6 linked regions of the Homo sapiens genome follow. The protein of the gene in region 6 purifies or fractionates together with the protein of the main gene of each other region. This does not show direct contact. Each region holds a gene or a part of one and is shown on either strand. Other genes may lie near its edges.

The links.
Region 1: the proteins of MKX (region 6) and BEND3 purify together in Homo sapiens (affinity purification with mass spectrometry, with the first as the bait; one large-scale study listed by BioGRID). This does not show direct contact.
Region 2: the proteins of MKX (region 6) and NAP1L4 purify together in Homo sapiens (affinity purification with mass spectrometry, with the first as the bait; one large-scale study listed by BioGRID). This does not show direct contact.
Region 3: the proteins of MKX (region 6) and UBN2 purify together in Homo sapiens (affinity purification with mass spectrometry, with the first as the bait; one large-scale study listed by BioGRID). This does not show direct contact.
Region 4: the proteins of MKX (region 6) and HSH2D purify together in Homo sapiens (affinity purification with mass spectrometry, with the first as the bait; one large-scale study listed by BioGRID). This does not show direct contact.
Region 5: the proteins of MKX (region 6) and LEMD2 purify together in Homo sapiens (affinity purification with mass spectrometry, with the first as the bait; one large-scale study listed by BioGRID). This does not show direct contact.

The regions. Positions count from the first base shown.
Region 1 is NC_000006.12:107,108,872-107,112,963, forward strand, and holds part of BEND3 (BEN domain-containing protein 3), read right to left. Parts: intron 1-4,092. UniProt on the Homo sapiens protein: Transcriptional repressor which associates with the NoRC (nucleolar remodeling complex) complex and plays a key role in repressing rDNA transcription.
Region 2 is NC_000011.10:2,982,111-2,986,202, forward strand, and holds part of NAP1L4 (nucleosome assembly protein 1-like 4), read right to left. Parts: intron 1-4,092. UniProt on the Homo sapiens protein: Acts as a histone chaperone in nucleosome assembly.
Region 3 is NC_000007.14:139,283,018-139,287,109, reverse strand, and holds part of UBN2 (ubinuclein-2), read right to left. Parts: intron 4,087-4,092; coding exon 2,536-4,086; intron 1-2,535.
Region 4 is NC_000019.10:16,146,385-16,150,476, reverse strand, and holds part of HSH2D (hematopoietic SH2 domain-containing protein), read right to left. Parts: intron 1,754-4,092; 5' UTR 1,727-1,753; coding exon 1,602-1,726; intron 1-1,601. UniProt on the Homo sapiens protein: May be a modulator of the apoptotic response through its ability to affect mitochondrial stability. Adapter protein involved in tyrosine kinase and CD28 signaling. Seems to affect CD28-mediated activation of the RE/AP element of the interleukin-2 promoter.
Region 5 is NC_000006.12:33,775,516-33,779,130, forward strand, and holds part of LEMD2 (LEM domain-containing protein 2), read right to left. Parts: intron 2,873-3,615; coding exon 2,727-2,872; intron 1,725-2,726; coding exon 1,623-1,724; intron 1,542-1,622; coding exon 1,439-1,541; intron 1-1,438. UniProt on the Homo sapiens protein: Nuclear lamina-associated inner nuclear membrane protein that is involved in nuclear structure organization, maintenance of nuclear envelope (NE) integrity and NE reformation after mitosis.
Region 6 is NC_000010.11:27,735,526-27,739,617, forward strand, and holds part of MKX (homeobox protein Mohawk), read right to left. Parts: intron 1-4,092. UniProt on the Homo sapiens protein: May act as a morphogenetic regulator of cell adhesion.

The sequences.
Region 1 (4,092 bases), on a different chromosome or scaffold from region 6:
CTCGGCTCTCTGCAACTCTGCATCCCGCGTTCAAGCAATTCTCCTGTCTCAGCCTCCCGAGTAGCTGGGACAACAGTCATGTGCCACCACACCTGGCTAATTTTTGTATTTTTCACTAGAGATGGGGTTTGGCCATGTTGGCCAGGCTGGTCTCGAACTCCTGGCCTCAAGAGATCCACCCGCCTCAGCCTCCTAAGGTGCTGGGATTACAGGTATGAGCCACCACATCCAGCCAAGAGGGCTGACTTTAAATACACGTTTCAACTTGGATTAAAAATTGGTGGGGGCGGGGGGCGGTCTGGGCGTGGTGGCTCATGCCTGTAATCCCATCACTTTGGGAGGCCGAGGTGGGAAGATCACCTGAGGTTGAGAGACCAGCCTGGCCAACATGACAAAACCCCGTCTCTACTAAAAATACAAAAATTAGCTGGGTATGGTGGCACGGGCCTGTAATCCCAGCTATTTAGGAGGCTGAGGCAAGAGAATCCTTGAACCTGGGAGATGGAGGGTCCAATGAGCTGAGATAGTGCCGTTGCACTCCAGCCTGGGTGACAGAGCAAGACTCTGTCTCAAAAAAAAAAAAAAAATCGAGGTGGGGCAGGCATAGTGGCTTACACCTGTAATCTCAGCCAAAGACAGGTTGGAACACTTGACTCCAGGAGTTTGAGACCAGCCTGGGCAATACAGTGAATCCCCATCTCTATAAAAAATACAAAAAAATTGCCGGCACGGTCGCTCACGCCTGTAGCCCCAGCACTTTGGGAGGCTGAGGCGGACGGATCACTTGCAGTCAGGAGTTCGAGACCAGCCTGGCAAACATGGAGAAACCGCGTCTCTACTAAAAATACAAAAATTAGCCAGGCGTAGTGGCGGACACCTGAAATCCCAGCTACTCAGGAGGCTGAGGCAGGAGAATTGCTTGAACCTGGGAGGCGGTGGTTGCAGTGAGCCGGGATCATGCCATTGCACTCCAGCCTGGGCAACAAGGGCAAAACTCCGTCTCAAAAAAATCAGCCAGGCATGGTGGCACAGGCCTGTAGTTCCAGCCACCTGGGAGGCTGAAGTGGGAGGATCGTTTGAGCCCAGGAGGTTGAAGCTGCAGTGAGCTGTGATCGTGCCACTGCACTCCATCCTGGGTGACAGAGTGAGACCCTGACTCAAAAAAAAAAAAAAAAAAGGAAGCTGGGCACAGTGGTGTGCACCCATAGTCCCAGCTACTCAAGAGGCTCAGGCGGAAGCATTGCTTGAGCCTAGGAGTTCAAGATCAACCTGGTCAACACAGCCAGACTCTGTCTTACAAAAACTGGAGGGAGAGCATGGTATCAGGTGACCTGCTGAGAAAACTTCAGCTCTAAAACAATAGTTTGTAAAAGTGGTTTTCATACAAAATTCACAGACTAACATGCCAAGCATTCACTGCCACTCTTAAAACAGCCCCTCTCCTGTTTAACACTCTGAGGGCTGATACTGGCATGGAGAGCTCTTAGTTTGACATGTGTGGGGAACTTGTGGCAGCTAATCCCAGAAACCACAAGAGCTCTGGGTTGAAACAATGATGTTGCAAGAAATACTGACGTATCAGAAGCAGAAGAAGAGCATTATCAAATTTGGAGAAGGAAAGAGACTGTCAGAGCAAGGTGATACAAAGCACCAAAAAAATCAGTTTTTAGCACATTTTTTTGTGTGTGACTTTCTTTTTCTTTTTGAGACAGAGTCTTGCTCTGTCACCCAGGCTGGAGTGCAGTGTGGCACGATCTTGGCTCACTGCAGCCTCCTCCTCCCAGGTTCAAGCGATTCTCCCGCTTCAGCCTCCCGAGTAGCTGGGATTACCCACCACCATACCTGGCTAATTTTTGTATTTTTAGTAGATACGAGGTTTCGCGATGTTGGCCAGGCTGGTCTGCAACTCCTGGCTTCAGGTGATCCACCCACCTCGGCCTCCCAAAATGCTGGGACTACAGGTGTGAGCCACTGCACCCAGTCATTTAAGTTTCATTTTAAAAATTTATCCCGGTCAGGCAGTGGCTCACACCTGCAATCCCAGCACTTTGGGAGGCCGACACAAGTAGATCACTTGAGCTCAGGAGTTCGAGACCAGCCTGGCCAACATGGTGAAACCCCGTATCTACTAAAAATATAAAAAATTAGCCAGGTGTGGTGGCGCATACTTGTAGGCCCAGCTACTTGAGAGGCTGAGGTGGGAGGATCGCTTGAGCCCGGGAGTCAGTGGTTGCAATGGGCCTAGACTGTGCCACTGCACTCCAGGTTGGGTGAAAGAGAAAGACCCTGTCTCAAAAATTCCCAGAGTAAAATTGACTCTCTAGGAGTGTATCATTCTATGAAAGATAACACATGTAGGCTAGGCGTGGTGGCTCACGCCTGTAATCTCAGCACTTCGGGAGGCCGAGGTGGGCAGATCACCTAAGGTCAGGAGTTTGAGACCAGCCTGGCCAACATGGTGAAACCCCGTCTCTACTAAAAATACAAAAATTAGCCGGGTATGGTAGTGCATGCCTGTGATCCCAGTTACTCGGGAGGGTGAGGCAGGAGAATCACTTGAACCCAGGAGGCGTAGGATGCACTGAGCCGAGATTGTGCCACTGCATTCTAGCCTGGGTGACAGAGTGAGACTGCATCTCAGAAAAAAAAAAAGAGAGAGATAACACATACACATCCCTATAAACACCCCTAAAAAGATACAGAATAGGTTTCCCATTCCAAAGAGTAATTCTACAATTAATTCCCCAAGCTTACCTTAGCCAATGATGGGAACAATACAATTAGGTTAGCAACCAAAACCTATCACTTAACACCAAAATTAAGCACCAGGCCAGGCGCGATGGCTTACACCTGTAATCCTAACACTTTGGGAGGCTGAGGCCGGTGGATCACTTGAGGTCAGGAGTTCAAGACCAACCTGGCCAATAAGGTGAAACCCCATCTCTACTAAAAATACAAAAATTAGATGGGTGTGGTGCCACGCACCTGTAATCCCAGTTACTTGGGAGGCTGAGGCAGGAGAATCACTTGAACCCAGGAGATGGATGTTGCAGTGGGCCGAGATCGCGCCACTGCACTCCAGCCTGGGCACCAGAGTGAGACTCCGTTTCAAAAAAAAAAAAAAAAAAAAAAAAATTAAGCACCAGGAAAAAAACACTACATCCCAGCCTCCCATATACAAACACCAAATCATTTTTGCTGGTTGGCTAGCGACCTTCATACTCTATGCTTCTACATTATACAATTTGAGGTCTTTAAACTTTTCATCATGGTGTCAATACAATTCATATAAACATGCTGTTTTCCTTCTCATTGTTTCCAGGGACTTTCTAGGCAGCGCTAAAAAGTAGCAGGTGAGACATTAATATAGGATATTACATTTTCACCTAATCAAACCTGTGTCAGGGCTCACTCCAATTTTTCTCTTTGTAATTATTGGACATTCTGCTATGCTTCTGCTCACACAGGGGTGCTTAGGAGCCAAGAAAGAACCCACAGGGAGAGGATGTAAAGAAAATGTGTCAATATGGCACCTGTTAATAGATTGTTGGGATGCTGACTGTCTCATCTGCCAGTTCCTAACCAGCCTATCGTCTTGCTGGGCATGGAGAAGGTAGGCGGAATCACATAAAACTTTCCCATTATATTAGTTCTTCAGCAAGAAGATGGCATCTCTGGTATCAACAACAACAAAAAAAAACGCTGGGCGTGGTGGTACACGTCTGTAATCCCAGCACTTTGGGAGGCCGAAGCTGGCGAATGACCTGAGGTCGGGAGTTCGAGACCAGCCTGACCAACATGCAGAAATCCCCTCTCTACTAAAAATACAAAACTAGCCGGGCATGGTGGCGCGCGCCTATAATCCCAGTTACTTGGGAGGCTGAGGCAGGAGAATCACTTGAACCCAGGAGGCAGAGGTTGCGGTGAGCCAAGATCAGACCATTGCAATCCAGCCTGGGCAACAAGAGCAAAACTCTGTCTCAAGAAAAAAAAAAAAAAAAGAAAGGCTGGGCGCGGTGGCTCACGCCTGTAATCCCAACATTTTGGGAGGCCAAGGTGAGCGGATCATGAGGTCAGGAGATTGAGACCATC
Region 2 (4,092 bases), on a different chromosome or scaffold from region 6:
ACCTTTGATAATGTCTCTATGAACATCTTGGCTTATATGGCTTCCCACTCCCAGTTATCCTTAATTGATATGGCAATAGCAGGACCGCTACAGTAGCATTTCTGGGTCAAAGAGCATGAATGGATTCTGATACATACTGCCAAAACAGTTACACAATAACATCAACTGTAATTTGGCTACTTAATTGAAGCTCTCTATTGCCTAAGAAATGTATCTCATAGCACCTTCCTTACCCCACACATACACACTAATTGCTGAAAGAAGCCTACTAACCTGGAAACATCTAACACTGTCAGTTTAATGGACAGATTCTTGTTGTCATCACCCTATCAGTAACACCTCGTAAAGACACATACTTCATTTCCAGCACCTCCTATACTAGCAAGGGACCTACATGTCAGGCACTTCATACATTTAATACCAAGAGAAACTCCACTAGGGAGGGACTATCCTCAGTTTACACGAAAAGAAGCTGAGGCTTGGAAAGGTGAGGTGCCAAATTGAAAGTCACACGGCTAGTAAAACATGCATTCGTGTTTCAAATCTGACTCCTTCTAACCTTTCCCTAGTACCAACACCACTTCACTTCTGGCTGTTTCTACTTGCTCATTAAAGATTCTGTTGCTGCTAGGCTGGGCCTGGGGGCTAACACCTGTAATCCCAGCACTTTGGGAGGCCAAGGCGGGCAGATCACGACGTGAGGAGTTCAAGACCAGCCTGGCCAACATGGTAAAACCCCGTCTCTACTAAAAATACAAAAATTAGCTGGGCATGGTGGCACTCGCCTGTAATCCCAGCAACTGGGAGGCTGAAGCAGGAGAACTGCTTGAACCCAGGAGGCGGAGTTTGCAGTGAGCAAAGATTGCACCACTGCACTCCAGCCTGGGCAACACAGCAAGACTCCATCTCAAAAAAAAACAAAAAACAAAAAACCTGTTGCTGCTATTGGAACAAGTGACAAGCAACAGCTTAGTCAGGGTTGAAATCCTACTGTTCAGCAGCATCTCCAAGAAATCCATTTTGTCTACAAATGGAGTGTGACAATACTCCCTTTTGATGCTGTTCACTATGCAGCCCCAGAGCCCCTAACAGTTCCTGGCATAATAAATATCTGTTGAAAGCATAAACCACCTGTGTTAGGACATGAGCCAAAGAGGTTCACCTTCCCATGGAATGGTACCTGTTCCAACTTAACAGAGTCCATTGATAAAATGATTCACTCAATTTTCATTTAAGTGAAGGCTGTGCTTTTTTAAAGAGACACACAGTCTCACTCTGTTACCCAGGCTAGAGTGCAGTGGCAGGATCATAGCTCACTGCAGTCTCAAACTCCTAGCCTCAAGTGATCCTCCCACCTTAGCCTCTCAAAGTGCTGGGATTATAGGACAGAGGCACCATGCCCAGCCCGGCATGTGCTGTTTAATACAATTTTTGTTAACAAGATGACAAGGCAGTTAAGTTAAACCCAACACGGTATTCTGGAAAAAAAAAAAAGTGCTAAATCAAGGATAGAAAAAAAATAATGAATTTACACAATAAAAAAGAAAATAATTTTGACTAAAGAACCAACCAACCCAGAACTCAATGCCTAGAACAAGACAGACACACACTGAACAGCCTGGTTTCAAATCCTACCCCTATCACAGATCACCTGAAGCTCAGGAGTTTCAGACCAGCCTGGGCAACATGGGGAAACCTCGTCTCTACAAAAACAACAAAAAAAACAAAATTAGCCAGGCATGGTGGTGTGAACCTGTAGTCCCAATTCAGGAGGCTGAGGCAGGAGAATCGCTTGAGCACAGGAGGCAGAGGTTGCAGTAAGCTGAAATAACACCACTGCACTCCCGCCTGGGAGACAGAGTGAGACTGTCTCAAAACAAAAAGAAAAAAAAAAAAAATGAGGCTGGACACAGTGGTTGATGCCTCTGGTCCCAGCTACTTGAGTGGCTGAGACAGAAGCAACACTCAAGCCCAGGAGTTGGAGGCCTGGCGGCTGCAGTGAGCTATCACTGCGCCACTGAACTCCAGCCTGGACAACAGAGCAAGACCCTGCCTCAAAAAAAAAAAAAAAAAAAAAAAGGCAACAAACCCTACAATGGCTGGCTATGCTCACCACCACGACCACAGCAGCAACCCAAACCCAGCCCTAGTCAGTGAAGATTTAAAAACCCTTTAACAAAGGCCAGGTGTGGTGGCTCCCACCTGTAATCCCAGTACTTTGGGAGGCCGAGGCGAGCGGATCATCTGAGGTCAGGAGTTCGAGACCAGCCTGACCAACACGGAGAAACCCGTCTCTACTAAGAATACAAAATTAGCCGGGCATGGTGGCGCATGCCTGTAATCTCAGCTACTCAGGAGGCTGAGGCAGGAGAATCTCTTGAACCCAGGAGGCGGAAGTTGCAGTGAGCCGAGATCTCGCCATTGCACTCCAGCCTGGGCAACAAGAGCGAAACTCTGTCTCAAAAAACAAACAAACAAAAAACTAACAAACACACTTCAATGGTCCCCCGTCACCTTCTGCAGAATACACATTCCTACCAATTCAGGCCCTGTCTACTTCCCCATACTCATTCCCACTCATGCTCTTCTGCATAACCTTCCTCTGGACCTCAGTTTCATCATCCACAAACTAGAAGACAGTGGCTACCTGAGAAACTGTTAATGGAGACAAATTTCCTAGTACATAACAGCAGGCCAGGTCTCTTTTCACTTTTGTAACTGCCATGCATATAGACTACATCTATTCCTTGATATGAAACCAACAAATCAAGTTACTTTAAACACTGCACCCTTTATACAGGTTGAGTATCTCTTATCTGAAATGCTTGGGACCAGAAGTGTTTCAGATTTTAGAATATTTGTATAAACATGATCAGGTATCTTGGGGATGGGACCCAAATCTAAACATGAAATTCATTCACGTTTCCCACACATCTTATTCACATAGACTGAAGGTAATTTTATACAATATTTTAAATAATTTTGTGCATGAAACAAAGTTTTAACTGTGATCCATCACGTGAAGTCAGGTGTGAAATTTTCCACTTGTAACATTAATGTCAACACTAACGGAGTTTCAGAATTTGGAGCATTTGGATTTTTGATTTTGGGATCAGGAGTGCTCAACCTGAATAAGGAAAGACAATGTAGAGAGGTGGTATTATAAACAAGCTAGAGTTCAGTCAAGTTTCAGCACCACAAATTATTTTTGTTTATCAATCCCTATCACCCTTAAAACAGAAAGTTATAAGGAACTATCAAATATACAGGTTTGAGGAAAATAAATATCTGTTTGTTTTAAATGTTATGTTCAGTTTAATACTAGTCTTATAAAACCACAGCCCGAAGACTCATCCAGAAGGTTCTCTCACTTTTAAAAGGCAATCAAGGGATCTATACAACCTGGTGACTATAGTTAACAACAATGTATCACATAATTGAAAAATTGCTGAGAGTAGATGTTAAGTGTTCTTGTCAGAATCAGTATACCACCTAATGTGAATTAACTTGACTTAGCCATTCCACAATGTATAGTACTTCAAAACATCGCATTATACATCATAAATATAATTTTGTGTTAATAAATAATAACTAAAAATAAATAAAAGACAATCAAGTTAAATTATGAAAGGGATACCAGGCAAAAGAATGTTGTAAGTTTTCTAAAGTTCAGGTTCCCTCCCAAGGTCAAAAACTTTAACTGTGTCTACAATTCTAAATCTGAACTGGCAAGCAAATTTTCACCCAGTTAATTGGGTCGAGGAAAAATAAAATAAAATAATTCCCATGATTACACAAATGTTCTTTTATTTATATTAGTCACTGTAACAATCCTATTTATGGATTAATTTCTTTGTACCCCAAACAACTGTTTTCTTATGAAATTTTTAAAGATTTTTGTAACAAAATATAACCTTAAATTCCTAATTTTGAACTGAAAACATCTACTCCATAGCTAGAGTAACTATAAAATTGGGCCATGGCCAGGCACGGTGGCTCACGCCTGTAATCCCAGCACTTTGGGAGACCAAGGCGGGCGGATCACATGAGGTCGGGAGTTCGAGGTCAGCCTGGCCAACGTGGTGAAATTCC
Region 3 (4,092 bases), on a different chromosome or scaffold from region 6:
TTTTCATAAGGGAAGGCCTTTATTCATCCATCTCCATATACATTTTAACATATAATCCCTAGTATCAATGTTTTTATTATTTTATTTCTGATGAAAGTAAATGTATATACATAAAACATCAGTTAATCCTAGATTTCAATTAATGAATTACCAGTTAGCTGAATTTGTTCTTCATTAGAATTCTGGCATCCAGTCATTCCTATGCCTACATTAGTAGCAGAATGATGATTTGAATATACAATGTATATTGAATATCAACCCTTAGACTATATTGAACAGCAGGAAACCTTGACATACAGCAAGGGGAAACTCTTCTCATTACATGTTCCTGTTCCACATAAATAGGAGACAGTACAAAGAGCACTTCCTTAGACAACACAATTCCATAAATAAATAAAAGTTATGTTTTCAAAGAATATTTAAGAACCTAAGAACTTGCATATCATAAAATGGTATTTTTTTTTTGCCGGTTATAAAACGAAATATTATACAAAACACATTTTGTTGAAAAAAGTCTTAAAAAGTACCTACAAAGCATAAACAGTATTGGATTAATAGGTGATTTTTATTTTCTTTTTTCTAAATTTGCCTTCAATGAACATACATTACTTTCAGGGGAAAAAAGTTAAAGAAACTAAATCATTAACATAAAGGACAAATCTGAGAAAGTGTCAGAATACAAAGAAGTGGCATAGAGATGAAAACAATAACAGAAGATGATATGGAAGACAGAGAGATAAAATATAGGCCCGGCGCAGTGACTCATGCCTGTAATCCCAGGACTTTGGGAGGCGGAAGCGGGCAGATCACTTGAGGTTAGGAGTTTGAGACCAGCCCAGTCAACATGGTAAAACCCCATCTCTACTAAAAATATAAAAATTAGGCCAGGTGTGGTAGCTCACGCCTGTAAGCCCAGCACTTTGGGAGGCCGAGGTGGGCAGATCAACTGGGGTCAGGAGTTCAAGATCAGCCTGGCCAACATGGCAATACACTGTCTCTACTAAAAACACAAAAATTAGCTGGGCATTGTGGCCCATGCCTGTAATCCCAGCTATTCAGGAAGCTGAGGCAGGGAGAACTGCTTGAACCTGGGAGGTGGAGGTTGCAGTGAGCCGAGATCATGTCATTGCACTCCAGCCTGGCAACAGAGAAGACTCCGTCTCAAAAAAATAATAATAATAATAAATAAATATACAAAAATTAGCCAGGCATGGTGGCGGGTGCCTGTAATTCCAGCTACTCGGGAGCCTAAGGCAGGAGAATCTCCTGAACCCGAGAAGCGGAGGTTGCAGTGAGCCAAGATTGCGCCACTGCCCTCCAGCGTGGACGACAGAGCGAGACTCTGTCTTAGGGAAAAATAAAAAATATATATATAATAAAGAGTTCTCAAAAAACTTACGATAAATGGATCAGAAACAGTAATCAGACACATAATACAATAAAATATTCTTGATCTAAAATAAATAACCAGTTCTGAGATGGAAAGCTATTACTATGTTCTAGGTATACAATTAATGACAACTAGGCAGAGAAAACACATTAATGATAACGGAACAAAAAGAGAATGAGAAAGAGTCTGAGAATGGCCTCAGACTTCTCCATAATCCTAAATACTAAGCAAGAGTCAGTGGAGTAGTATTTACAAAATTGGGAGTGGAACAGTTAGTGCCCCAAGAAGGCTACGCCTACTCAAGTGTGACAGCACAGAAAGAAATTATCAGGTGTACATGAGCTAAGGTAAAATAGCATTTATGCTACCCTTTTTTTTTGAGATGAAGTTTCGCTCTGTCACCCAGGCTGGAGTGCAACTCCTGACCTCAAGTGATCCTCCTGCCTTGGCCTCCCAAAGTGCTGGTATTACAGACACGAGCCACCATGCCCGGCTACCCTTCTTGAAAAGATTGCTTGAGTGAGGCACTCAGCTAATTGAGAGGTAAGTTTAAACTAAAAATTCACGAACGGGAAAACTGTGGTATAAAAGGGCGACTGACACTAATTTGACATAGAAAATTATATATAACTACAAAATTAAGCAAAATAAAAATTTCGAGAAGATAAATGATTTAAAAAATAACATGAATGTATAAATTTGATTGAAAAATAAGAAAATTGGCAGGAGAAAAAGGGAAGGGAAGAGCTAAGCGAATGTTCGTTAAATTCCTAAGTTACTACTTTGTTCTGGACTTTGATAAGAGAGAAAGTTTGAAATAAGCCATTTTAGTTTTGTTTTGTCAAATAATTTTAAAGTTGATTTAGTGATGGTTGCTTGTAATGAAGACATCGTTCTGTCAGACAGCTGAATGCTGGTGCACCTTTGTTACTTAAAAAAAAAAAATCCATATCCCAACAAACACCTCAACTACAAGTGTGCCTGTCACTGTGATGTCAGCATCAGGAACATTCCATGGCTGCAGGCTGTAATAAGCCAATTGAGAACAATCCACATATCATAAAAAGCTTATTAAAGTTACCCACAAGAAAGACGACATTATACAATCTTATAGTTTATCACATGGACGTACAGAACATACATACCTGCACACTGGCTGTTACCACTGAAGACCCTGAGGCAGTGGATGGTCTATGTGGAGTAGACAATGGTTTGGTAGCACCCTGTGTTCCACTTCCTGTTCCCCCAGACAGACTAGTCCTATTAGCTCCGCTTGAGTTAAGGTTGCTACCTCTGCTGGCAGGTACATTCATTGCAATTCCACTCAAGCTGTTCTTCCCAACAGTTCCAGTGGATGATGAGTTTGTTAGCTTTGAGGGGGCCTGAAGATTTTTTGTAGGTGGAAGGCCTGAAGTGCGACTAGAGGGCAATAAATTCAAGGTGGGAGACTGTCTGCTGATGTTCATTCCACTGGGCTGTTTATGGACTGGGCTGTTAGTGCTGGAGTGGCTACCCTGGGCAACTAGTGCATTTGGACTGGAACTACTTGGGGATACAGTAGGCTTGGGAGTTGGGTTGGATTTAGAAATAAGTTTAGTTGATACTGAAGGCTTAGCTGACAGAGAGGGCTTGGGTGAGGCAGAAGGCTTAGGCGAGGGCAGGGGTTTAGGAGATGTGGCAGGCTTGGGAGATGCGGCAAGTTTTGGGGAGGCAGCCATCGAGAAGGGAGATTTGAAACCCTGCGTGGAGATCTGTGACACCATAGCCTTGGCTAAATAGTTACTGGAGGTAGTGGTGCTAGGTACTGTCCTAGAAACCAGGGGGTGGGACCCTTGAGAACCATTTCCAGGTGAGGGGGTAGATAAGGGAAGGCGGTACATAAGTGGCTTATCTGAAGTCTTAATAAGTGAGGAGGAACAGGAGAGTTGGGGATTATTACTTAACTTCACGACGGGGTTGGTCTGGGATTTACTGATGGTGGCCTGTAATGGAGACACATAGTTCTGCTGGACAGCTGAATGCTGGTGCACCTTTGTTACTTGTGTTAACGAAGAAGCATCTTGGGCCTCGGATGTTCCCAGAGCATGAGAAGAGGCAGCAATTTGGGCTTGGGAAGAAGAGGAGACATGGGTCTGTGAAGAGGAAGAAGTGTGAATCTGGCTTGACCTCTGAAGTCCTTGTTGAAGTAGCCTGGCTGGCAAAGGTTCTAAAGAAACTTTAGGGTTCTGAATGGAAGAACCAGCAATAAGGCCTGAAGAGATGCCAGTATGAGCTAAATCCTGGGGTTTCTTTGGTACTGGCCCTGTGTGACCAGCAATAAGACTTGAAGAATGTGTAGTCTGAGTAGAATCTAGTTTTTTGGGAGTAGCTAGTGGCAGCTTACTCATGATACTTGCTAATTTTTCTTCTCTCAGTCCTGGACGAGGCTTTGTGGTTGGCATGCTTATCCTTGAGCCAACTGGAGGGCCCTTGTTCCCATTGTTGATAACCGCTAAAGCTTCAGAAACAAGATCCAGTGAAGGTGAATGGAAAGAAAGGTCTTCATCTAGTGAGTCGTCGAGGCAGATGGTTTCTTGGGCTGGTGCAGAGCTAGAGCTAGCTGCAGCAATGGCAGCTGTGCTGGAGCTCGTTGGAGGACCGCTAACCGAAGCCACCAGGGATGTTGGAGTTTTCTGGTCCTTTTTTGGACTACACTCCTAATG
Region 4 (4,092 bases), on a different chromosome or scaffold from region 6:
ATCTCCGCCTCCTGGGTTCAAGTGATTCTGCTGCCTCAGCCTCTCGAGTAGCTGGGATTACAGGCATGCGCCACCACGCCTGGCTAATTTTGTATTTTCAGTAGACACAAGGTTTCACCATGTTGTCCAGGCTGGTCTCAAACTCCTGACCTCAGGTGGTCTGCCAGCCTCGGCCTCCCAAAGTGCTGGGATTACAAGCATGAGCCACTGCACCCAGCCTAAAATTCCTTTTAGAGATGGAGTCTCACTATGTTGTCCAGGCCAGCCTTGAACTCCTGGGCTCAAGCGATCCTCCCGCCTCAGCATTCCAAGTAGCTGGGATTAAAGGTAAGTGCCAGTGCAGCCAGCTGCTTCTTTTAATATAACTACTAAAATTTTTTTAAATTGCAATGTGCAACTCATGTTATATTTCTGTTATTCAGCAAGGCCCCAGAGCTCAGAAACCATGACCAATACTACTTCCTCTCTGTGGCCTTCACAGAATTTTCTCAATTTCCTGCATGCAGAGAGTGGCCATAAATATTTTTTCCTCCATTTAGTTAGAGCCGGGCCCACATCCTCAGAGCTCACAGTCTGAGGTAGAAAGGGCACATTGGGGCCAGGCACGGTGGCTCATGCCTGTAATCCCAGCACTTTGGGAGGCCGAGGCCGGCAGATCACTTGAGGTCAGGAGTTTGAGACTAGCCTGGCCAACATGGTGAAACCTCGTCTCTACTAAAAATACAAATATTAGCCGGGTGCGGTGGTGCATGCCTGTAGTCCCAGCTACTCATGAGGCAGGAGGATTGCTTGAACCCAGGAGATAGAGGCTGCAGTGAGCCGAGATCGCGCCACTACACACCAGCCTGGGCAACAGGAGCGGAACTCTGTCTCAAAAAAAAAAAATAGAAAAAGAAAAAAAAAGAAAGGGCACATTGGTTGTATCCTGATGGGTTGAGAGCAGCTGCTTGGAGTACTGTGTTCAGAAAGATTCTGGCCGGGTGCGGTGGCTCACGCCTGTAATCCCAGCACTTCGGGAGGCCGAGGCGGGTGAATCACTTGAGGCCAGGAGTTTGAGACCAGCCTGGCCAACATGGTGAAACCCTATCTCTACTATAAACACAAAAATTAGTCAGGCTTGGTGGCATGTGCCTGTAATCCCAGCTACTTAGCAAGTTGAGGCGGAAGAATCACTTGAGTCCGGGAGGCAGAGGTTGCAGTGAGCCAAGATTGCACCACTGCACTCCAGCCTGGGTGACAGAGTGAGACCCTGTCTCAAAAAGAAAGAGAGAAAGATTCTGAGGCTGCATGCTGCCATCGTTGATTGGTAATGCTTGGCCTGGGCGAGGTGTGGGGTGCTGCCAGGTCCCTGGCAGTGCTGGTCTGTTGGCCACTTGTATAGAGAAAGCTGAGGCTCAGAGAGAGCAAGTAACTTGCCCCAGGTCACACAGTGAGCCCAAAGAGGTGGCAGGATTCAAGCCTGGGAGCCTGGAGCTCATTTTAGCCTCTTGCCACACTGAGCTGAGCCAAGTCCAGAATTCTGCAGTTAAAAGCTGCCCAGGGTAGGGACAGACAAGGACAGGGTGGGGAGGGCAGGGTGGAGGGTGTGGGTGTGTCCTCACTCTCTTGAGATTGCACCATGGAACCACTCGGGGACCCCGTCTTGGGCCAGCTGGCCCATCTGGGTGTGCACAAACCAGTCCAGCCGTGGGGGTAGCGGTAGGGGCAGCTTCCCGGCCTCTGTCATAGCTTCCTGGGGTGGAGGGAAGGTCACCTGGGTAGAGAAGGGAGGGAAGACAAGAATCAAGCTTGATGCACCTCTTATCTTTGCTCTATTCTTGAAGCTTGTGGTGCCTCCTCCTTTGAGAAGTCCTCCAGGGTGGACAGAGCAATGGACTTAAAACTGGCTTGTGGCTGGGTGTGACGGCTCACATGTGTAATCCCAGCACTTTGGGAGGCCAAGGTGGGAGGATTGCTTGAGCCCAGGAGTTCCAGACCAGCCTGGGCAACATAGTGAGACCCCCATCTCTACAAAAAATTAAAAAATTTGGCCAGGTGCGGTGGCTCACGCCTGTAATCTCAGCACTTTGGGAAGCCAAGGTGGGTAGATCACCTGAGGTCAGGAGTTTGAGACCAGCCCGGCCAACATCATGAAACCCTGTCTCTACTAAAAATACAAAAATTAGCTGGGTGTGGTGGTGGGCACTTGTAATCCCAGCTACTCCGGAGGCTGAGGCAGGAGAATCACTTGAACCCGGGGGGCAGAGGTTGCAGTGAGCCAAGATCATGCCACTGTGCTCCAGCCTGGGCGACAGAGTGAGACTCCTCAAAAAATAAATAAGCAAATAAATCAATAAAATAAAATTTAAAAATTAGCTGGGTGTGGTGGTGCATGCCTGTAGTCCCAGCTACTCAGGAGGCTGAGGTGGGAGGATCCCTTGAGCTCAGGAGGATATGGCTGCAGTGAGCTGTGGTTGTGCCACTGCACTCCAGCCTGGGGAACAGAGCAAGACCATGTTTCAAAAACAACAACAACAAAAAACTGGCTTGTGTGGCTGGGCGTGGTGGCTCACGCCTGTAATCCTAGCACTTTGGGAGGCCAAGGCAGGTGGATTACCTGAGATCAGGAGTTCAAGACCAGCCTGGGCCACGTGGTGAAACCCTGTCACTACAAAAATACAAAAATGAGCTGGGCACAGCGGCCTGTGCCTATAATCACAGCTACTTGGGAGGCTGAGGCACGAGAATCACTTGACCCCAGGAGGCGGAGGCTGCAGTGAGCCGAGATTGCACCACTGCACTCCAGCCTGGGCAACAGAGTGAGACTCCGTCTCAAAACAAAACAAAACAAAACAAAACAAAAAAAAAACCACTGGCTTGTGATTTTTTGGGCACCTACTATGTGCCTGATAGTTTTTACACATTCATTCATTGGCTCATCCCCAAAGGCCTTCAAGGACTTTTCCTTTTATTCTTCTTATGCCATTGTGTTTTTTTTCTTTTTTTTTTTTTTTGAGACAGGGTCTCACTCTGTCACCCAGGCTGGAGTGCAGTGGCCCCATCTTGGCTCACTGCAGCCTCGACCTTCTTCCCTCAAGTGATTCTCCCACCTCAGTCCCCCAAGTAGCTGGGACCACAGGCATGTGCCACCACGCCTGGCTAATTTTTGTATTTTTGTAGAGATGGGGTTTCACCTTGCTGCCCACATTGGTCTCAAACTCCTGGACTCAAGAAATCCACCTGTGTCAGCCTCCCAAAGTGCTAGCATTACAGGTGTGAGCCATTGTGCCCAGCCTTTTATGCCATTATTGCAAGGACTAGAAAGTTCATTTTATAAATAAATGTTTTGAAATTTAAGAATAGAGTATTTAGAGCTGGGCATGGTGGTTCACGCCTGTAATCCCAGCACTTTGGGAGGCTGAGGCAGGTGGATCACCTGAGGTCAGGAGTTCGAGGCCAGCCTGGCCAACATGGTGAAACCCCATCTCTACTAAAAATACAAAAATTAGCCAGATGAGGTGGTGGGTGCCTGTAATCCCAGCTACTCAGGAGGCTGAGGCAGGAGAATTGCTAGAACTCAGGAGGCAGAGGTTGCAGTGAGCCAAGATCGCGCCATTGCACTCCAGCCTGGGGGGCAGAGTGAGACTCCATCTCAAAAAAAAAAAAAAGAGTAGAGTATTTAAATATTAAGTAAATATCAAGGCCCCTGGAGGAATAAGGAAATGACAAAATGGCAAGTGAACGAAATAAACAGCTGACCCAACGGTGGTGGTCAAAAAGGGTTGCCCTGATTTCTTTCTTTCTTTTTTTTTGAGACAGGGTTTCCCTCTGTTCCTGAGGCTGGAGTGTGCAATGGTGCAATCACAGCTCATGCTCACTGCAGCCTCAACCTCCTAGGCTCAAGCAATCCTCCCACTTCAACCTCCTGAGTAGTTGGGACTACAGGCATGCAGTACCATGCCTGGCTAATTTTGAAAATTTTTTTGTAGAAACAGGGTCTTGCTCTGTTGTCCAGTCTGGCTTTGAACTCCTGGGCTCAAGCAATCCTAACACCTCAGCCTCCCAACATACTGGGATCACAGGCATGAGCCACAGTGCCTGGCTGCCTTGGTT
Region 5 (3,615 bases), on a different chromosome or scaffold from region 6:
TGTTGTCCAGGCTGGTCTTGAACTCATGGGCTCAAGCAATCCTCCCACTTTGGCCTCCCAAAATGCTGGGATTACAGGTGTGAGCCACTGTGCCTGACTTAAAGTGGACTGCTAACGGCTCTATTTTTCTGATTCCTCTTGGGTTGCAGATAGGGATGATGTTGACAGTAGAGCCTGGTGGCGGGAGCACGGAAATGCCACTAGCCATGGGACTCTTGAGCACATTCCTCTACTTCCCTGTGCCTCAGTTCCCTTATAGGTAAAATGGGGCCACTTCTGTTGTGTGCGTGAACCATGGTGAGGACCAAGTGAGTGAGTTTGCATCTGTGGAGAGCTCCAAGTAGTGCCCGGCTCCCAGGGAGCACTCAGCAAGGGTGAGCTCTCAGCATCACCCAGCAGATGACAGCATCTGGCCAGAAACCACAGCAAGTGTCTGCTAGGGAGGGACCACAACCAGAGCCAACACTGGGGGGGGCCCTGCTGGCTGTCTCCTGGGACTCTGCCCTCCCCCACCCTGGTTCTGTCAGGACCCCAGTGTACAACTCCAGCAGTCACAGCCCATGTGGAAGGTGCCCTGCAGCTGCACATGACAGTGGCCCTGCCACCCCTTCCCATGAAGCTATGTGCCCTGGAAGCTGACCCCATTCATGTTGTGAAACTTTGCTTTCAATTACATGTATATGCATGAGTGTACGCATGCGTGTGTGGGAACTGGACCATGATGTTGCAGGTAACAGGTGTTTTTGACTGCAGGTCATGGTTTAAAAAGTTTGAAAAACAATTTCCTCCTCCTTGCCAGTGACTGATTCATAAACAGACATGTAAGAGATTCTGGTCAATAAAGCCTCAAGGAGTGTGTCACTGGAGGCTACTGGGAACATGTTCTCTTGCTTATAAGACAACAATAGGCCTACTTTTCCCCTGCTGGCTGTGACAAGGCAGACAGTGCCCCAGCTGCTGTTGGCCACCATCTGCAACCATGAGGGACCCCAGTCTGTTGATAACATCCATGGAGGAGTGTGGGACCACGAGAATCACAAGAGCAATGGAACCGGAGACCTGACTGTTCTGTGCCTGGAGCCCATGCAGCTCTGAACTTCCACTTACAGAGACTGAGGAGATCCTTCACTACTTGTGCCCTGGGGGAGGGAGCTGCTATTACTTGGAGCCCAAGGCCTCCTAACTGGTATCACCACTGCCAGTGTTCTCTCTACAGAGGTGTGGGATTGTGCTTTCATATGTCTTTTCTAGCTCATCCTGCCATAAAGAGCCGAGCATGCTGGGGAGCAGCAGGAGTGGGAGCAGAGCCACTCTTGGCCCTGGGGTCTGCACTGCCCTCAGCTGACATCTGATGCAAGGCTCTGGGTTTCCTTCTGGGGAGCTCAGTGGGGTCGGACCCCATCTTACCTCACACCCAGCGCCCCAGCCAGGGACTCACCGGCTCTGTGGAGGGATCAAGCTGTCGCGCACGTGCAGGATGCCTACATATGGATAGCGCTCCATGTCCTGCTCCCAGTCCACGTAATGGTCCTGGACCACGTCTGCAGGAGAGAGCACACCATTTAGGGCAAGGACCCTCTGGCTGGCGTCGGCAACCCTTTATTCACCAGGGGGCCACGCACCTATAATCTTCTTCACCATCTCATACATGGCTTGTTCCTCCTCTTCTAACTTTCGCCACCGATATTTTAGGAGAATTAGGAGCCCCCACAAAAAAGCCAAGCCTGTGAGGGAACAAAACACTGTTAATCCCTCACACTTCATTTGGCAGTGGGTCTCACCATGGACAAGATGCTGTGATGGATGCTGTGGGGGATCCACCACATGGGTTTGGGTACCTACTATGTGTCAGGCTCAGGGCCAGCATGCGAGAAACAAAAGATACAGAAATGCAGAGGGACGACAGATTATTAAGTGATCATCTTCCTCCCACCGGCTGTCACCACAGCGGCATCCCCAGCCGTCCAGATCTCGGCTCCTCCCAACCTCATTCTGGGGCTTTCATCTCCTCCCTTGTGAACCAGAACACAGTGTTTCATACATATATACATGCCGGGGCCCTTTGTATTCCGAGATGCTGCTGCCGATAATGATTTCTGTGCCTGATGGCACAGGGGAGGGAGCTGTGTGCACACTGAGGCGGTCTGTGATTTGTAGCTCCAACTATCTCTGGAAAGCCGTGGTTTCTGTGACTTGGCCTTTCGCCTTCAGAGACGCCCTGAGGTCTCTGCTCAAAGGCGGCCCCCGATGTCAGGGGATAAGACTGGTGCCCTCCTTTCAGTGCAGCACCCTGAGTCCTTCTTGCTTTCATCAGGTATCTGTAGCTCTCCAGGAGATGTTTATATTTTTCAGGGAGTAAAAGTAGGCCAAGCCCCTGCTGTGCCTCCTGCTCGAAGCTGGTCCACACTGGGATCCCTGCAGAGCCCAGAAGGGGTGGGGCCCAGCTCCTGCTCAGGCCAGGCTCCCGCTCAGGAAATCTGACAGTCCCCTGCCCTGAATCAAGGACATTTTCTAGTTATCCTCACGGATTCCTGCCACCAATCTCCAAAGGTAAATACAACCCAGGGCAGAGGCTGACTTGTTCATCTCCTCTGTTTTATGAGACAGACCTCAGGTTCACTAGACAGAAATGAACCCTCCGGGCCTGGAATTTCTATAGCTCATCATTCATGCCTAGGAGTATGCTTGACTGCACAGAAGGGGAGGGAAGGCGGCCGAGGACTTACACCAGAAGAAGATGAGCACGTTGGTGACAGCAGTGAGCAAGGCCCGGCTCAGGCGGCAGCCAACACCCATGCGGGGGTGGGCAGATTCCAGGCAGACCACCTTGTCCACAGTCGTCACCAATTCAGACTGGTCTTCTCCTTTCAACCTGAAACAGGACACAGGGCTCTGAACATGTTGGAAAGCTCCAAGGAGAGGCAGTGCAAGCCCCACTTCAAACAGGAGGAAGCGAAGGAAAGTGGGGACGCAAGGCCTCTACTTGCTTATAGAATAGGCTTGGTATCCTGGCTGCATTCTTTCCAGAAATTTCCCACATTGGCTACTTAGAATGAATAAAGCTTTAAAGACGGCAGCAGGCTTGAACCCCTACCGCTAAAGCAACGTCCCCCTGTCAGGTCTTTGACAGCCTCTCTCAGCATGCAGGAGATTAAACTGTAAATTGGATTCCCACCTCCCAGCATAGAGAAATGGAAATGTTTACTGAATCACTAGCTTTGCAATTGCATGGCAAGAACTGAAAGACAGAATCTGGGAGGTTGCACTTTTCCTCGGTGACAAGGAGGCACATAAGCTGTTTAAGTGTAAAGATCATGGGGCATCCATGAGGCTCATGGGGAATCCGTGAGGCTCATGGGGAATGAAAACCACCAGGCTCTCCGAGGCCAGACCCCAGCCACGGCGCCTCCACCATGGTCTCTGGCCAGGAGGTGTCAGGACCTGCAGAGGTGGGGACACCAGAGCCTTCTTCCAGCTAGGTGACCCAGGGCGAGAATATCATGCTCTTGAGGCTGCATGCTGGAATGGCTGGCATCCCAAGTGTCCTGATTTCTCAGGACCCACTTTCAATATGGTCATCCTGAGCGGCTCTGCCACCCTCCAGGCTGCCTTCCC
Region 6 (4,092 bases):
CATTTGACAAACATGTTGCTTACTACAGACACTGAGCATTTAGTGTATTTGTGGAATAAGGAAAAATGAAAAGGCCTTGACATCAAAAAATTTAATAAGAGAAAAGTCCAGTAAGAGAAGTAGGAGGGTATACAAATAACTAGTATAAGAAAGAATGTGATGAATGGCATACAAGACATTAAAATGATACGAGTCCAAAGGAAAGAGGGGTTACTTTCATATATGACTCCAGCCTTTTTGAGGAAGTTAAGTGAGCCTTTGAAGAAAGTCCAGAATAGGTCAGGTCAAGAGGGAAGGGAAGTGCATTCCCAATAAAGAGGACACAGGAACAAATAGAAGTGAAATTCCACAGAAATTGTAGGGGTTGAAGAAGAGGGAAGAGTTAAAGATGACCTTGAGTCATCAAACCTGTGGAACCAAGAGAAGGGTAGTGCATTTGGGGAAGGAGATGAAACTTTCTGAGGATAAAATGATGTGTTTGGCTTGGGCAATGTCTAGTTTGAGGTGCTAATACTGGTGACATGTCTGGTAAGAAAATAAAAGTGGTATCTGAGATTGAAGGGAGGGGATGAGCAAATTCAAGAGGAAAAGGCACAGAGGTAATAGTCAAAGTTGCAAGAGTAGAGAGAGTGAAAGCAGGGTCAAGGGCCAAGCTTTGGAAACCATTAGAGATGAAAAAAGTGGGATCTGTTCGCTTCCAAAAGAGGCGTTAGCAAAACAGAGGTAGAACCATGGGTGAAGAGGGGGAAAATAAACCAAAGAACTCCTCACTTTAAGCCAAAAGTCAAATGTTTCTTAGACAAATAGGTGAAGGCAAAGAAAGAAATATGTCAAGACAAAGAAAAGCTACTTCCATTCTTTTTTTTTTAAAGATGTTACTGGATTTGATACTTGAAATTTCTTCTAAAATACCAGGTTATCATCAGTGCATAGATTTTTAGAAACTCAAAAGGGCAATACTTGCCTTTAAAAGAATGAAACATGGGAAGAGAATTAAATCTTTCTGCCAGTTTGGTCCAGAACATGACCAAACTGAGGAATTTAAGCTAGGCTTTGAAGAAAGGCCAGATTACTATAATGGTTTGTGTGGCAATGTTTGCACTGGAAATTTCTACTTTTTTTTTTCTAGATTTATACTATAAATACACATTTTTTGTGCATTACTCAAGTCCTTATTATTCTACTTAAAAAAAAATCTCAAATTATACTTTTTCTCCCTGTCCTCATGGGTAAACACACGGTGGGTTTCCCATATGTATTTAATATTCAATATAGTTAATATTGTCTTCTTTGTACCTGAAGCAATGATAGTTATCCTTTCAAATTTATATGCAATGACATATTATCTCACTGTGGCATTTCAGAAGTCAGTCTTCACCAATGCTTCTTCCTGCTAAGCTATGTTACTATTACTAAGATTCAGTCTGACTTCAAATTCTCAGTCCTTCCCATTCTCTACAGACAGACAACAAAATTATTGAGTGACTATTGTACTTTAGCCATGGTGTTAAGTCCTAGGAATGAATAAGCTTTGTCTTCTGCACTCCCAGAAGGACTAGCGGAAAAGAACTACACATAATTAACTGGGATACACTGGTGAACATTAGCTGTGGAAGCACAAGGAGCCTGATCCCTTTCTTCATGAAATTTCTCAAACTCCCTTGGATTCTTCAACTCACTGCCAAAATCTTCATCCGACTACTTTATCCAGCCATACTACTAGCTGGGAATTTGAAAACATTTCTCTTTCTAACTTCCCTGTCTTCCATTCTGTTCTCTTAAATGGATCTTAGCAAGTATCATCAAATTCAAGAATTGATGCACCATTTTGATTTAGTCACTTCACTTCTTCAAATCCTCATAAATGTCCTGTTATCCCATAATCACCATACAGTGGAAGAGGGCCTGGCTTCCTGTTCTGAATTTGCCAAAAACATGCTGTGTGAATTTGGATAAATTATTCAACTTTTCTGAACTTTGAATCCTTCATCTCTAAAATGGATTTGATGGTTCCTAATATCCTTGCTAGCTCTAAAAATTAAGATGGGTGAATACATCCCAAGTTCCCCTACAGCAATGTTAATTTCCTTTATACTAGGTACTAACCTCCCTCTGTTGACCAGTACTGTCTCCAGCAAGAGTGTTTTTGTCCTTCTTTGCTCCTTTCACACACAGAGTACAGCCTGCAACTTCCCCTAGATCATTCATATTTACTAGAATCCAACTCCAAAACATTTTTGTAACTTTCTTTACTCAATGGGATATAATTCAGACTAACCTTAAATCTTAACTAACCTTAAATCTTCACACAGCAACCACACATAGTACAGTGTAAAATCCAATTCTTATGAAACTCTTCTTATAATGAAAATGCAATGGCCTTCTAATTTTTTAAAAAAGTAATACACTACCCTTCTAACAGATAAAAATGGGGGAACATTTAAATGATTTAAATGTCACAGGGGATTAACTAACTTTTCATGTATAGGAGTCATATCTCTTTTAAGTTTTATATACTCATAGTCTTTTTTTTAACCATATTATAATAGTTACACATTAGGTGATTTTCCAGAAAGGTTTGCTGATGTCTATTATAGACTGTTTCAAAACTGATTTCATAAATTGACCACCACCCAATCTGGTAATATATATATTCTGCTGGGGTTTTTTGTTCTTTTGTTTTTTCAGTACAACTTAACAGCTAGATACACTCCAAGGTCTTTAATGTGTATTTGCAGTAGGTCCTGCAAACAGCAAATAGTTAGTTAACAAATTTGCATATACTTGTTTTGCATTTCTTTCTGGATGAATTAATGCAAATTCCATCTGTTTCACTGAAGGTAAAAATATCGGTTCAAATTTTCCACTTTTAATCTACTATGGATTCCTTCGGGTTGTCGTTCATATTCTCTTCAAATTGTATTTTACATGAAACAGGTCTCCTTAACCAAGGATAGGTTCTGGAACAGAATTTTAATGTCAAACTGAATGCTATATGTGTATATACGTATAGATGTTTGGGCCTCTAAGCTTTCACTATAAAATATGGGAGATAGTTAGATATGACTAATTTATATAATTATGATTTATATCAGTATCTATCTATCTATCTCCCATATTTTATAGTGAAAGATTAGAAGGCCAAACATCTAGAAGCTGGGAGGGAAAACTAAATAATATTCATCCTACTTTAACAAAGGTGTTTACATTCATCATGTTGACAGAGCAATTGTTATAGTACACCCAAAGGGATAAACTGGCATCTGTCCATGTTTGAACACACTGAATTAACGAACTTCTGAGCTATTCAACTGAAATATTGAGCACTTCATTTCCACACCATGTAATATAACACTTGGAATAATGAATAAGGACTGATCTGAGATTTTGTTGAATATTTAACGTTACTATAAGCCTTGTAGCTGATAATGGCATATATATATCAGCAGGCACACTCAATACCAAGCAAAAACAGAGTTATGTCAACAGAGGAGACAGAATCTAGGAACATAGCAGTTTTAACAAATCGTATGTGGACATATCACAGGAATATGAGACTTTCATTATTAGAGGAGGAAGCATTAACATCTACTCATTACTCCTTGATAAGTTCCATATCCTGCAATAATACAAACCCCAATCACATACCATTTTATACTATTCCACAATAAAGCTGTTTATATTTTGAGAGTACAGAGTGTATTTCTATAGCATTTGAACAATGATCAGCCATAGGATCAGCCATAAGATCCGTTGGTAATTCTATACATTTTTATTTTTTCCATTTATCACTTTAAAGTTTCAGAAACTAGCTTCATTAATAATAAAATTTGAAATCATTATACAGTTGTCATTTATTATTATAAAAATTATCTTACCCCACTTAAAATTACATATTTCTGTGCATTTTTATTTTCTGAGCACTAGTGTAAGAGAAAAAAAGTGTTTTGAATGAAAATTTCATGTAAAGCATATTTTAAAAATGTAATAGCCTTACCAAGATCTAAATGTAAAAAGCATTTTTATTTGTATTTGAACTATCATTACAGGTGGCAAATAATTTAAAATTATAACTACTTGTATTGCAGCTCA